2 separate regions of the Homo sapiens genome follow, and region 1 is linked to region 2. Evidence: fine-mapped expression QTL. Tissue or cell type: B cells. Region 2 holds a variant in brackets; the other region holds the start of a gene. All regions are shown on one strand. Distances are from middle to middle.

Evidence for each region. PIP is the estimated chance that this variant, and not a neighbour inherited with it, causes the effect.
Region 1: RXRA starts here. The variant in region 2 is fine-mapped to the expression of RXRA in B cells (Fairfax 2012, PIP 0.95).

Annotation. Positions count from the first base shown.
Region 1 is chr9:134,322,324-134,329,976 of GRCh38, reverse strand. RXRA (retinoid X receptor alpha) reads right to left here and starts at 3,522. Exons shown (of 10, transcript NM_002957.6): 1 at 3,318-3,522. The coding sequence starts at 3,345. RefSeq lists enhancers at 377-1,306, 1,307-2,236 and silencers at 2,847-2,986, 3,725-3,774, 3,845-4,024.
Region 2 is chr9:134,241,837-134,249,489 of GRCh38, reverse strand. No RefSeq gene overlaps it. Among named protein-coding and RNA genes, the nearest start is that of LINC02247, 50 kb to the left of the region's middle. RefSeq lists an enhancer at 5,432-5,551. The variant A/G (reference allele first, on the strand shown) is at 4,091.

The DNA.
Region 1 (7,653 bases), 80 kb before region 2:
GAGGTCTGTCCCACCCTCTCCTGATGCCAGAGCCCCCTGCCACATGCACGACCAGGCCCCAGGGGCAGAGGGGCACACCCCTGAGTACCCCCTGTTCCCACAGTAATTCCACAGCAAATCCTGCAGGCACCCTTTCCCAGGGGAGGAAACAAAGACCACTGACAGCGACCTCCCACACAGCCACGGGGGAGATGGGGCAGGGGCCAAGAGAGGGCAGTCAGAGGGGCCTCCTGGTGGAGGTGAGCCCCCCACAGGCCCTGAAGGACAGGCACAGCTGGAAGAACCACCAGGTGCTGGCAGAGCCGGGAGCCAGTCACAGCAGCTGCCCGCGTGACCAGGGCTGCCGGCTCAACCTGCACCCCACACCCCAAGGGACTCAGAGCACCCGCCCCCCACCAGCCCTTCCTAGGGGCCCAGCTCGTCCCATCCACATCTGGGCAGAGGGTCACAGCTGCATGCTCGGGTCCAGGCCCAGCAGCCAGCCCTAGGCAAGGTTGGAGGCTAGCAAGCCAGGGCCACCATCGGACTGGGCCATTTTTCTCTCCCTGACACCTCCCCAGTCAACAAACAGGGCCCCTCCAGAGTTTACCAAAACAAACACCCTGCCGTCGGGCAGCGCCCGCGCTAAAAGACGCCCTCGTCAGGCCCGAGCGGGACTCCAAGCCCAGCCTCCTGAGAGTCACATGACCCTGTTATTTCGGGAGGCCCCGGAATGTGCTCTATTTTGGGTCCCAAGGGCTCTGATGTTACCAGAAGCCCCTCACACAGGCTGCAAGCTCACCCAGGCCCCCAAGTGCCCCAACTCCAAGAGTGGTCAGCGGGCCTACAGCTTTGCCACCGGGTCTCTCCACAGGCGCATGGGGTCTGGTGTGGTCTGAGACCTTTGGACTCTGTGGACTCCGCCTGAGTCCCACCATTCAGGATAAGGCCAGCGGGGGCCTTCTCCCCGGCAGGCGTGGGAGCGCGGCCAGCCCCGGGCAGCAGGGCCAGGAAGCTGGGGCTGCCTCTGGCGAGTCCCTCGGCCTTGCTTTCCTTCCAGATCTGGACGCTGCACTCATCCCTGCCCTCACTGAGCGGCTCGGTGGACACCGACTGGGATCCTCTCCCTGCCCACCAAGCCCAGCGGTAGTGAATGCTGGGAGGAGGAAGCCCTCTCTACCCCAGACCCCAAAAGCGGCTGGGCAGCTGTAAGGGGTGGCCGAGTCTCCCCAGCAGCTCCAGGTCTGACCGGTCGGCCAGCCGGGCCAAGACAAGCCAGGCCCTCCACCACCACTCACCCCGAGGAGGGATTAGGCTGTGTTGACAAAAGGGCTTAGAAAAGTAGCCGCTTAAATGGACCTTCGACTGCTCTGGACTTCAGAGCTGGTCACAAGCTTAGAAAAAAAATAAAATGTAATCAGAGCCCAGGGCTCTCTGCTCAGCCCTGGGGCGTGGGCTGCCTGGGAGGCCATGGGCCGGTCGGGAGAGCTGCTGCTCGAGAACAGAAGACTCCTAGCTTCCTTGTGGCAGGGGAGTGCCCAGGGAGATCCCTGGGGCAGTGGCTCGGAGGCACGACCTCTCCTCCTCACAGGGACTCCAGCAAGCCACCATGGCGACTGGGCACCCCTTGCTCCCTCGCCCTACATCCACCAACTCCGTGGACTATCCCTGTCCCACCCGGAGCATTAGAAACAGGGACCTGTTCGGTTCTCAGTACTCAGCTGAAGTGCAACCAGCCAGGCCCCTGCCACGTCCAGGGGCCAGACACTGAGCTGAGCATTCTTGTTCCAGAGGAATCGTCTGGGAGAGCCTAGCTCTGTGTGTGTGGATGTGTGTGTGCACATGTGTGAGTGCAAAGCTTTAACAGGGAAAGGCAGCCCCAGCCCACTCCACACTGCACTCGGTCACAGACAGCGCAGCATTCCCTCCTGCCTCACACTCAGCAGTACCACGAGCTGGGGGTGCTAATCCCAAATCCACCACCTTGTATCCTGGGGGCTCAGCCTCTCCCAGCCAGTTTTCTCATCTGCAAAATGGGCATGAGCGCCCACCCCTGGAGGCTGAGCCCTGGAGCTCATTCAAGGCCTCGAGCCCACCACTCCATCATGACAGAGGCAGGGAGTAAGCGTTAGGTCTGACAAACCTGGAACCCACCGCCTGCCCCGGTCACGGGGCAGCACACCTGCCTGTGAGTAGCAGAGGTACTCAGACTCTCACCCTCACATCCAGGAGGGGCTAGGTCCATGCTGGCTCCCCTTGATGCCCCATCTCACTAAACATCCCTGCAGCTACATTGGCTTCTGAGCACCTCCTGGGGTGGCCAAGCTGCACCCCAGGCTGCAGGGAGGGTGGGCAGGAGGGGCTACGGATGGCGGGGGCTTCATTCATAATCAGCTGTTTCGATTTCCATTCAGCACAAATCCTTCACCCGGCCTGACAGCCTGGCTGCCGTCCCACCACCAAATTAATATCCTTCCCGGAGCTAATTTATAAAGTCTCCCCCTTCTCACTAGCTTCCAAACCCTTGGGAGGGCAATGGGTGGGGGCCCCAGCCATGCCCTCTCCCCCTTCTCGGTAGGTCTGGGCCTGGAGTTGGCGGGCAGTCTGGGATAGGAAGCTACCGGGCGGGATGGCAGGAGGAGGAGGGAAACTGACCCTACGCGCCTCTGCGCTGTCCTGCTCACAAATGGAGAGCCAGCCTGGGAGAACACCCGGGGGTGCCAGAGTGAGGGGCCCCATTTCTGGAATGGGGCCTTCCCAGGTCTGACGTTCTGTTCATACAGCCCCGGGGGACCCTGCCCACCCGGGCGTGGGCTGCTTTGGGGATAACAGGGTCCCAGTCTGTTTCCTGGGCGGACACACACCCAAGGGCCAGCGGCCTGCTAGAAGCCGCAGCCCGACGGGCGGGCGGCGCAGAGGCCGCTCGGGGCCCAGCGCGCCGTCCCGGTCCCCAGGCCAGGGAGGCCGGAGCCGCGGAGCGCAGAAGTTGCTCCTCCCGCTCCGGCCGGGTTCCTGTGCGGCGCGGCTGCAGCTGGGCGCCGGGGCGCAGGCGGCCGCCGGTGAGCGGGAGACCCCTCCTCGTCCCGGGCGAACCTGCCACCCGCCCCCCGGCCCCGCCGCCCGCCCGCTGCCCAGCCCCGCCCCGGCCCCGCGAAAAGTTGCCCCGGGTCGACCCTCCCCGGGCCCGGCGCCCGAACTCACGCGAAGGTCGGCGAGGGGTCCGAGCGGGGCCCGGGCCGGCGACCCCCCGCGCGCGCCGCCAACGCGCCCCCGGCCCCCTCCCGCCCGCCGGCCCCCGGCCCCCGGCCCCGTCCCCGCCCGGCCCGGCGAGCACTCACCGAGCGGCAGGAAATGTTTGGTGTCCATGTCTGCGACTAACTCATGCCCGGCCGGCGGCGCAGGCAGCGGGCGGCGGGCGCGGCGGCCCCCGGCGCGGCCGGCCCGGGCCCGGGCGGCGGGGAGCCGGCGGCTGCGGTGGCGGCGGCGGCGCGCGGAGGCCGCGGCGCGGCGAGTTGTTGCAAAAGTCGCCCAACAATGTAAACTACTTGTGTCTGCGCGCCGCCGCCGCGCGCGCCCGGCCCGCGCCCCCGCCGCCGCGCGCCCGCGCCCCGCTCCGACCGCGGCGCTGCGGCGCCGGCGGGGGGGTGGCGGGGGGCCCGCGACGGGCGCTGACTCGGCGCAGCGCCGCCGCCACCGCTCGGCCCGCGCCCCGCCCGCCCAGCCCCGCCCGGAGCGCGCCCCCCTCCGCCGCCGCCGCCCCGCGATCGCCGCCCGCCCGGCCGCCGAGTTGAGAGCGCCGTGCAAACTTGCGAGTTCGCCTCCGCCAGGGGTTCCCGGGAGCCGCGAGGAGGCGGCGTGGGAGGGGGCGGGGCGCAGAGGGAGCGGGGCGGGGGCGGGGGCGGGAGCAGAACTCCCTCCCCGGGCCCGCCACACACTCGCGCACACACACACTTGCGCGCAAGGGCCCGGAGGAGGCGGAGAGCCGGGCCGGGAGCCCAGCGGCCGGGCCATTGTCTGCGCGGCCACACAAAGCGGCCGGGCGGTGGCCGCGAGGGGACCCCGGCCCGGGCCAGGCAAGCGCAGAGCCGGGCGGGATGGCCGCGGCACCCATACCTCGCACCCCGCCGCGGCGGACACGTGGGGAAACTGAGGCCCGGGAGTGGCGATGTGCCCCAACGGCAGAGGACAAGCTCCTCGTCCGGGGAAGGTTTCGTCTTCCGGACGCTACCCCCGGTCCACCCCACACTTTCACGCCCTACCCCCACGGAGAGACCCACGAGCCCACCGGGAACGAGGAGGGGTGCGCGCTTCGCCTCCTCATCGACCCGCACTCCTGGGACCCCTCTTCAAAGGCACCAGGCTGGGCAGGCGCTGCCCGGAGTTGGACACAGACTTTGTGGCCGGTGGCTATTTTTATACCCTGGGTAGTTCTCTGCCTGACTTTTAAATTCACGATTTGTTTGAAAACGAAAGGAAGCACTCCTGCCCCGGGACAGCTCGGGCCGCCTCCGCCGCGCGCCGCCCGCCGCCCGCCGTCTCGGGCGGCTGGAATTCGGATTTGGGTGTGAGCTACCTGCGCGCCGCCAAGCCCAGCCTTCCTGAGCAGGCGCCGAGGCGCCCCGCCGCGCCCTCCCTCCGCACCCCCACCGCGAGCTTGCTGACCACCTAGACCTAAGGGCCCGGGCTGCGAGGCACAGGGACTGACCATTCACGCAGGCTGCGCGTGGTGGCCCGGGTCAGGGGACGCTAATGGGGAGGGAGGTGAGGAGGTGATGACCGCGTGTGGACAGCCATGACACGGCCCAAAGATAACAGCCCGAGACCAGAGAGGTGTCCTGCTGCCTGGGTGCCCCTCAAGTCGGGCCACCCGGAGCTGGGTTCCACGAGGGCTCCGGTGGCCTGTTCCGGTGGGAGGTCTTGGTTCCACTTGGGACAGAAGTGCCCTGGTTGGGCAGCCCACCCCCAGCACAGCCAGAGCCCAAGGCAGCCCTCTCCCCCTCCCCCTCTTCACTGACCCCTGGGCCCCTACCAAAGGCCACCCCGTCCCCCTATTCACACACCCTGTCCAACAGGCAGCCTGCCCCACTCCCTCCGGGATGAGGGCCACTGTTGACACCTGGTCCTCACCCACTGTGGTTACAGCCACAACAGACCCACTTCCCCACTGCACATGGCATGCCGGCCCAACCCACTGCCCTTCTAAAACTGAGTTCCTCCTGCCAGGGAGGGGGGCGGCAAACAAAGGATAGGACTGAGAAAGAGCCCCCGTAAGCACCAACATACACTGCAAAAGTGCCATGTGCCCGCCGCGTTCCAGGCCTGTCTCTGTGACTGCTTGGGCCCCTCCTGACTGTACTCAGGTTGGGGGGTTGGGGGGGAGTCCCAGATAGACAAGGCCTGGGCCAGATTGCAGGTCCACCTCCTACCAACCGTGTGGCCTAGCTGGGTCACTTCCCTCCTTGTATCTCAGTTTTCTCATCTGTAAAGTGGGAACAACCACTCCCTCCTCACTGAGTCACTGAGATGACTAAGTGAGATAATATGGAGAGTCTGCGCTCGGGAGGACGAGCTCGGTGTGACAGTTATTGTGATGATGATGATGATGAAATGACGCTGAATTAGGCAGGCCGTTCGCCTATGCTCAGTGCAGGGAGAGCAAGGCTCTATCCAGCCAAAGGGCTCAGGCAGCTTTTGGGATCACTGGTTCTTGAGTCAGGTTTTGGAGCAGGGAGGTTCCATCAGGCAGTGGCCGCCCAGGCAGCAGGGCCGGCTGAGCAGCGGCCTGCAGAGAGAAGGAGCAGCAGGCCGCGGACGGCAGGTCAGGACACGCCAGGCAATGGTGGGAAGGCTGGGCTGAAGTGTCTGAGGTCACCTCCCAATAGTGGGCGGTGTGGCATGCTGGACTCTCCACCCCACCCCCATCTCACTCCTTGTCCCTGAAAACTCAAGACTCAGGAGCTGTTGGTGCCTGGAGTCGGGGAGGCACATGCAGACAGATTTCCATGTGGGTTCCTCCTGGGAAGGCTGAAGGTTCCAGAAGGGCCCTCTGTTCCTAAGAAACACCGGAAGGCGTCATCCCCTGCTCTAGAGACCACGTGGAGAGCGCACGGAGTCCGGAGTCCTGCAGATCTGGGCTCACATCCAGCCTCTGTGCCCACAGACGGTGAATGGCTCTCAGCCCCGCCCTTCTCTTCCATGGGGCAGGGGCCTGGGTGCTCGGCCGCCGAAAACACACCAGGTCCTTGATGGAAAATGACGATGCCGCTTGTTATTTCTGTGGCCACTACTTTTTATCCTCCCCCTCAGTTTGGAGCTTTTTGGTGCAAATGATTCTACACGAAACCTCCCGGGATAGTGGCTGCCCCATATGAAATGGCCAGGTCTGAGCCAGCCATGGAAAAAAACACCCCAGCCTTCCCACCATGTGCTGCTACAGCCAAAACTATTTTTATAGTAGTATCCATTTATTCACAACCTGCGATCTAAGAAGGTTTTGTTTTTTTGTTTTTTTGTTTGGGTCTTTTTTTTTTTAATTTCCCTGAGGGACGCTTTTTAAGGTACTTTGGCCTATTTCATATGCCTGTCTCGGCTCAGTCTTGTAAACAGTCCCGGGAATTGCTTGTTGAATAATATTTTTAAAGGCTGGTCTCTGTGCTGGCTGAGCATGAGGAAGCTGGCGTCTGGGTGGACTGCTCCCAGAAGTTCCCAGGACACCAACGGGGCTCTAAGCTGCTTCCAGAGGTTCCCTGTGGTCCTGAGCTGGTCACTAGCAGGACCTCACAGGGGTTTGGGGAGCTCAGCCTCCAACAAGGGAGGCCAAGGGCTTGGGTACTGCTGGGCAAGGTGGCCCGATCTGTCCCCAAGCACCTCAGCCTAAGGGGACTCTCTCTCACATCCGTTGTGGCTCCTTTGGGGACAACACCTTTTGTCTGTGGTGACCGATGATGACTCGAGCTGGGAAGTAGAGCCGAAAGCTCAGAGAGGCAAGGGGCCACCCGGCAGGTCCACATGGAACTGGGACTAGGCCCAGGGGTCCCAGCCCGAACCCCCTTTCTCAGTCATAGCTTGTCTCTCCATCAGTCTAGAGGGAAACACTCAAGCCACTTGTCCACACCTGGGCTCCAGTCTGTTCTGCTGAGTGGAGAGGAAGAGAAAGGATAGGAGGGAGGGGAGAGGAGAGGACAGGAGGGGAGGAGGAGGAAGAGAAGAGGACCCCTCTGCTCCTGGGTCTGGCCCTCTGGCAAAATGTTTGCAGGCCTGCAGGGCAGTCACCACTGACAGCGTCTGCCCTGGTAGCAGTCAGCTGGCTGGCCCTGCACACCCCAAACCCAAAGCAGTGCAGGGGAAGAGAAAGGTGAGGTCCTCCGAAGGCCAGCCGCTGCCTCCGTCATCAGCTGGGGTCTTACTTCCAGAACTCTGGGGAGCTGAATGGTGGCGTGAGCCAAAGAGTTCAGGTGAGTGAGGCTTAAGGGGACAGGAGCTGGTTTGTAATGAAGAGCCAGGATTTCAGTGCAGCTCCAGGCAAGAGACAGTGGGTTCCCTCCAGGGGCCACCAAAGAGCCCCACCGAATCCCAGCGCCAGCCGCAAGGGGTCACAGATGCTCAAAGAAGGGCAGGAACAGTTCTGAGAGTCCGGAGAGGAGGAACCTGAGCTTTCCAAGCTGCCTCCGAGGT
Region 2 (7,653 bases):
GCAGAGTGCCCAAGCGCCCAGATCACCAGCCACTAACAGGTAACTGCTGACCAGCACCTACCACGCAGAACAGCACGCCCCCAAACCGGGCAGATTGATGGGTTTTCACAAAATGCTGATCAGTAAGCCGCGACCAGAACCGGAAGCCATCCTCCAGCCATCAGCTGCCCCCACAAAACCATTGTCCTGATTCCCAAAGCCATAGTTAGACTTGCTGGTTTCAAAATCCATGCACGTGGAATCCTCTCTGATGCCCTTTCCTGGCTCCTTCCTATCCGCATGTCATCGGCGTCACTGCATGTAGCTACCATGTCCACCCTCAGGGCTGTGTATACAGCGGTGAATACGCACAATGTATCAATTCTGATAATGGACACATGCGTAGTTCCTGGTTTTGTGCCTAGTTCCAATGGTGGCCGCCTGCTACTGGGTGGTGGGATTGCTGGGCCTTGGGGTCCAAGCGTGTCCAGCTTTGCAGATAACACCTGTTTTCCAGGGGGAGCTGAAGTGGCCCACACACCCATCAGTGGTGTGAGATCCAGCTGCTGTGCACCCTCACCAGCACTGGGTGTGTCCGTGTTTTCGGTTTGACTTGTTCTAGCAGTACCACAGGGCTTTTACTTACATTTCCCTCATAACTAGTGGGGTTGAGCAACTTTTCATATGCTTAATGGCCACTCGGAAATCCAATTCCATTTTTTTTTTTTTTAGACGGAGTTTCGCTCCTATTGCCCAGGCCGGAGTGCAATGGCGCGATCTCGGTTCACCACAACCTCCACCTCCTGGGTTGAAGCGATCCTCCTGCCTCAGCTTCCCGAGCAGCTGGGATTACAGTCATGCGCCACCATGCCCGGCCGGAAATCCAATTCTTAAAAGTGACTGTTCAGACTTGTGCCCCTTTTTCTACTGGTTGTCTTTTGCTTATCCGTCTGTAGGAGTTCTCGCACATCTGGATGTGTCTTTTGTCAGATGTCTAGATGGCAACAGCATTCTCTGCCTCTGTGGCATGCCTTTTCATGTCCTGAAGTAGGTATATTCTCCACAGGACTGAGTGCATATACCCACCAGACACAATTCTTCACTTCCTCATTTCTCTTTCAGGGACCTGCCGTTGTGGCTGGTCCCAAGGCCAGACCCATTCTAGATTCTGGAGTCCCCAGTTAAAGCAAGGAACTCTGTGCTCCCATATCATCCAGTTATAGGAAGCAGGCTTAAACCTGGGGGAGGTAGCCCCTTCAGGAGAGGCAATTCCTGGAGAAGTGCTCAGCTTGGCAACATGGCTAGCAGCTGGGAACATGGGCACTTCAGTCTTAGAGTGGACATTTGGGCAGAACATCATAGCATCCACTACAGTGCCTTACGTGATTGATTTTTCTGCCGTTTTTCTTATACATCTGTTTTAAGGCTATAAATTTGCCTGTGAGCATAGCTTTAGCCACATCCCATAAGTTTTAATATTGCATTTTTAAAATTATCATATACTTCACAATATTTTCTAACTTAATTGTCATTTCTTCTTTGACCCATTTGAAGTGTTATTACTTAATTTCCAAACATTTGGATATGTTCCAGTTTTATTTTTGTTGTGATGGTTATGAGTTTTCAGCTTAAATATCTTATAGTAAGAAAACCTATTCTGAATGATTTCAATCATTTAAAACTTATTTTAGCTGTTTCTGGCCCAGCTTTGGTCAGTGTTGGCTGATGTTTCATATGCACTTGAAAATAATGTCTATTCTGTTGTTGGACACTGTGTTCTATATTTGTCATTTAGTTCAAGTTTGTTCCTCGTATTTGGATCTCCTTTATTTCTGGTGATTTTTTGGTCTGCTTGACCTATTGGTTATAAGAAAAAGTGTGATTATGGATTTGTCCATCTTTTTCCTTTTAGCCAAATTTTTCCTTACATATTTTGAAGCTTCATAATTAGGTGCATAAAAGTTTGTTACATTTTGCTGGTGGTATAATTCTTTTATTATGAAATGTCCATCTTAGCCGGGCATGGTGGCTCATGCCTGTAATCCCAGCACTTTGGGAGGCTGAGGTGGGCAGATCACCTGAGGTCAGGAGTTCAAGACCAGCCTGGCCAACATGGTGAAACCCTGTCTCTACTAAAAATACAAAAATTAGCCAGACATAGTGGTGCACGCCTGTAGTCCCAGTTACTCAGGAGGCTGAGGCAGGAGAATCACTCCAACCCTGGAGGCGGAGGTTGCATGAGCCACGATTGTGCCACTGCACTCCAGCCTGGGCAACAGAGCGAGATTCTGTCTCAAAAAACAGTTCATCTTTATTTTTTGTAATACTTTTTGCCTCCAAGTTTATACTAGCTGGTGTTATAGAGACATCTTTCTTTTGGTCAGTGTTTTCATAAAACATCTTTCTACCTTTTTACTCTTTCTAGTTCAAACTTTCTTTCTTTTTTTCTTCTTTTTCTTTTTTTTTTTCTTTTTTTCTTTTTTATTTTTTTATTTTTTTTTGAGACAGAGTCTCGCTCTGTCGCCCAGCCTGGAGTGCAGTGGTGTGATCTTGGCTCACTGCAACCTCCGCCTCCTGGGTTCAAGCGATTCTCCTGCCTCAGCCTCCTGAGTAGCTGGGACTACAGGTGCCCGCCACCACACCCAGCTAATTTTTGTATTTTTAGTAGAGATGGGATTTTACCATGTTGGCTAGGATAGTCTCGATCTCTTGACCTCAGGTGATCCACCTGCCTTGGCCTCCCAAAGTGCTGGGATGACAGGCGTGAGCCACCACGCCCAGCCTAATTTTTAAATTTTTTGTAGACACAGGGTCTCCCTGTGTGGCCCAGGCTGGTCTTTCACTCCTAGGCTCAAGCAACCCAACTGCCTTGGCCTTTCAAAGTGTTGGGATTACAGGTGTGAGCCACTGCTCCTGGCCAAGAAATCGTTATTATTTGAAAAGTCGGTACTTATTTACCTTGACCCAGATCTTTACCTGTTCCGTGGCTCGTCACTGTTTCCTGCATATCCACGTCTCTATCTGGGATGATTTCTCTTCTGCCTGGAGAACCCCTTTAGTATTTCTTGTAGTTTAGGTCTGTTGGAAATTGATTATCTTGGTTTTTATTTTGCTGGAAAAGTGTTTATTTTGCTTTCACTTTTGTTTTGGTGGTCATCTAGGGCTAAAGGCCTTAACACGGCCAATCACTAGTATTTATTGAGCAACTAAAAACTTTACATGCTGTTGTTCATCAGCTCCTATGAGACAGATGAGATGGGTGTTACTCCTGTCCCCATTTGTCCATGTGGAACCTGAGGCTCAGCGTGGTTCAGTAACTTGCCCAGGGTCACACAGTGTATTAGTGAGTATTCTCCGCAGACACAGGGCAAATAGGAGACATACGTTCACATCACTTTCTATGTATATTCCTACTGATCTATAAAATAAGGAATTGTGCACGTGACCATGGAGGCTGACAAGTCTCAACATCTGCAGCAGGCAAAGTGGAGACCCAGGAGTGCCAATGGTGTAAGCGTCAGTTCAAGGGCAAGGGAAGACCGAAGTCCCAGCTCCACAGCCAGGCAGGGCAACTCTTTCCTTCTCAGGATTGGATGAGGCCCACTCACACTGGGAGGAAAATTGGCTTCACACTGCCCACCAATCAGATGTTAATCTCATCCAGACTGCCCACCAATCAAATGTTAATCTCATCCAGAATGATGTTTGACCAAATGCCTGGGCACACCGTAACCCATTCAGGTTGTCACGTAAGTTTTTTTTTTTTTTTGAGATGGAGTCTCACTGTGTTGTCCAGGCTGGAGTGCGGTGGCATGATCTCGGCCCACTGCAACATCCGCCTCCTAGGTTCAAGCGATTCTTCTGCCTCAGCCTCCCGAGTAGCTGGACTACAGGCATGCGCCACCACACCCAGCTAATTTTTGTATCTTCAGTAAAGATGGGGTTTCACCATATTGGTCAGGCTGGTCTCAAACTCCTGACCTCAGGCGATCCACCCACCTCAACCTCCCAAAGTGCTGGGATTACAAGCACAAGCCACCGCGCCCGGCCAGGTTGACACATAAGATTAATCATTGCTCACAGTTACTAAGCGGCAGAGCTGGGGTTCGAA[A/G]CTAGCATTTCAGGCACTGTGCCCCACACTCGGCTTCATGGCTCACCAGCCTGCCAGGTGGACACGCCCAGTCTCGCTCTTCCTGTCTCCACCCACTGTGTGTGTGCACCTGCCATGTGCCAGGGGGCACGGAGGGGCACAAGTTGTGTTTCCATCGCCTAGATTTCCCCAGCTCATGGTGGAGATGGACACATCCAAAACTCTGATCTGAGATGAGTCTCCTTGGTATCTGAAGGATGTCCTTCCTCTCTGGGTCTAGAACTCTGGAGTGACAGCTCTTTTCTTCCAGCACCGTAAACACGTTGCTCCCTTGTCTTCTGGAGCCCATCATTTCTGCTGAAAAATAATCTTATTGTCCCCTTGAAGGTAATTTGTCTATTTGTCTTTACCTCCAGCTACTTTTAAGATTTCTGTATTTGGATTACAGTAGTTTTACCATAATATGCCTAGGTGGCTTCTCCCTGGACCTAGCCTGCTTAGCCTGTGGAGAGCTTCTATCTGGGGTTTGTTTTCTTTCATCGATTTTGGAAAATCCTCAGCCATTCTATCTTCAAACATTGCTTTTTCCCTATCCTCTCTCTTTCTCTTTCTCTCTCTCTCCCTCCTAAAATTCCTGTTACCTGCATGATGGAGCTGCTCCCCAGACCCCATGTGTATGGCATGCTCTGTCTGTTTCTTATCCTTTTCTACTCACTCTGTTTCTTCCTAGTTTTTTTCCTGACTTATCATTTCACTTTATTAAAACTCTATTTCCTAGCCTACTGTTAAGCCTGTCTATTAAGTTTCTAATTTTAATCATTGCATTTTTCTAGAATTTCCATTTTGTAATAGATTCCAGTTGTCTAGCAAAATTCTCTGTTTTATCATCCATTTGCTCGAATAATAATTTGAAAGCCCATCTGTGATGCTACCAATAGCTGAGCAGTCTGTGGGGCTGTTGCTGTCATCATTTTTTTTCTCTGGGTCCTGTTTCTTGGTTTTCCTTGACATTTGTGAAGGCTTGGCTATACCTCTGGTTCCCTTTCATAGCGATTAAGCTTCCTGGCATCCCGGCTGAGAGCCTGGAGCGTCTTCTAGAGCTTCTCCTCCTTGGCAAGTCCTAAGCTCTCATTCTGGGCTACCTGACACTCTAGAAATTCTGACACCTCAGTAGCTTTCTTCTGGGCTTCTTAGCTTCTTGCTCTGCACACGTTCATCCACCAAACAGCTAGAAGGGAAACCTCTGAGCATCAAACTCACTTATTTTCACCACCTTTCTCCCCAGGATCTTCAGATCGCCACTCAATTTTTGGCTACCTTGACAGGTCCAAACTCCAGTGTCAGCCCTGTGAAACTCCGCTGGCTTCCCTTCCTCTTCACGGGTGTTTATGGTCTCTTGTCTTGCAGCAGGAGTTGGGAAATCCCCTGAATGAAAAGCGAGCAACAGCGTTGGCTCATCTCTCCGCGGTTCCCCTTTTGCTGAGATCTCAGCCCTTTGAGTCCCGATTGGCTCAGCTGCTCACCAGTGTCTTCAAAAAGAGCATTCGTATTTTACCCAGCTTGTCTACGTAGTGATCTATGCTGGCTACTTCATAACAGCCAGAAGCAATAGTCATTAAGTGGTATTTTAATTAACTATATTGGCATTTTATATATATATATATACACACACACACACACACACACACATACGCACACTATGTTCAGCACTACAGAGTCCAAATACAAGACACTTTTACCAAGTATTTTATTTGTAAAGGCATCCCAAAGGTAAGATGTCAACACGCAAGATTGGAGTGTGGAGGTGACGCTCATCCAACTTCTTTATTTCTTTTTTTTTTTTTTTTTGAGACAGACTCTTGCTCTGTCACCCAGGCTGGAGTGCAGTGGCATGATCTTGGCTCACTGCAACCTCCGCCTCCCGAGTTCCAGTGATTCTCCTGCCTCAGCTTCCTGAGTAGCTGGGATAACAGGCACACGCCGCCACCATGCCTGGATTTTTTTTTGTATTTTTAGTAGAGATGGGTTTTCGCCATGTTGGCCAGGCTGGTCTCAAACTCCTGGCCTCAAGTGATCTGCCCGCCTCAGCCTCCCAAAGTGCTAGGATTACAGGCATGAGCCACCGCGCCCAGCCTATATTTCTGATTATAAAAAAATTGCAGCAATGGTCGCCATGGTCCACGCATCAGCCAGCGCCTGCTGGGCTTTACACAGCTCTCCTGTCTCCCTCACAGCAAGTCCAGGGGGAGGGTCTAGGAGGCCCCGTTGGGAAGTGACACTCGGGATTTGAGCTCTGGCATGCCTGAATCCCTGAGCCGCTGCGTCCTCCTGGCTCCCTGCAGGAAGATTTCTCCCATGCTGTTTATTTTCAGGATGGTCCCTGAAACGTAAGGGACCCGACAGCCACCACGGCGAGGAAGGCGCAGAAGGGGCAGCACGGAGCCGTGAGCCACAGAGATGCTGCAGCCTGGACCAGCCATCATCAGACAGGCGTGTGCCGTCAGCGCTCAACGTGTGAGAAAGCACAGAGCCAGGCCCTTCCCAAGACCCCACTATGAACCCGATTGCTTCGGCCTGGCTGCCTTCCTCCAAAGGGGTGCAGGCGGGGCCCACGGGACCCCAGTTCTCTAGTCTCGCCTGACTCTAGGCAGAACTCTAGTGGCTCTGATCTCTGGGCAGAACTGACTCAAGAGCCACTGAAGAGACCTTCGCCTGGGGTCCTAGACTGGGCTGCAAGGAGTCTTTGAATCTCTTGAGATTGTGCACTAAGTATTTACCTGCACGCATTTTTCCAGGAAGAGGGCCTGCGGCTTGCATCATATCCCCACCGTGGTCTGTGACCAAGAAAGTAGTCAGCATCTTTAGGCTAGAGGAGGCGGGAGCCCCGGATTCCAATCGCAGTTCTCCCTGGCTGTGTGAGCTTGATTTGTCCTTTCTCTCTCTGAGCCCTGATTCTGCCTCTTTTCTGCAAGGACCTTGATCGCTGGGGGCGGCAGGGCTCTGTCTGCTGAACCCCAGATCCCTCTGCACTTTCCCTGCTCTGCTCAGTAGCGTGGGGCACTGGCCCAGCAAAGTTCATTTCCAGGTTCTTGTTGTGTTCTGACCCTGAGAGGCTCTGGCCGGGACTGGGAGGGTGGGAGGGTGGGAGGCCCAGGTATCTGCCCACATCTCTGCTTCAGGCACCAGCTCTGGCAGGGGCGGCCTCTGTAGTTCACTTCCTACAGGTGGCCCCTTCTTCCACGGGGCCCCCAAGGGGTGCGAATCTCACCCTCCATACACCTCTTTTTGGACCCTCTGTGTATTAAACTCCCTAAGGAGCCACCTGACGTGAGCTCTGGAGCCTGAGCCGTGGCTGATAACCAGGTGATTGCCAAGTGCCTTGAACACCAATATTCCCACCCAGGGTTGCCCAGTGACTTCACAGCAGGGCAGCGTTCCCCCGTGCTTGCCCTGGAACCCCTTTTTGGTTGACAAATTGTATGTTTTCAGAATGGTTTGAGATTTACAGCAAAACAGAGAAGACAGCCCAGAAAGCACTCATATCCCCTCGCCCTGCCACCCCTCATCCTCATCCGCATTGGCGT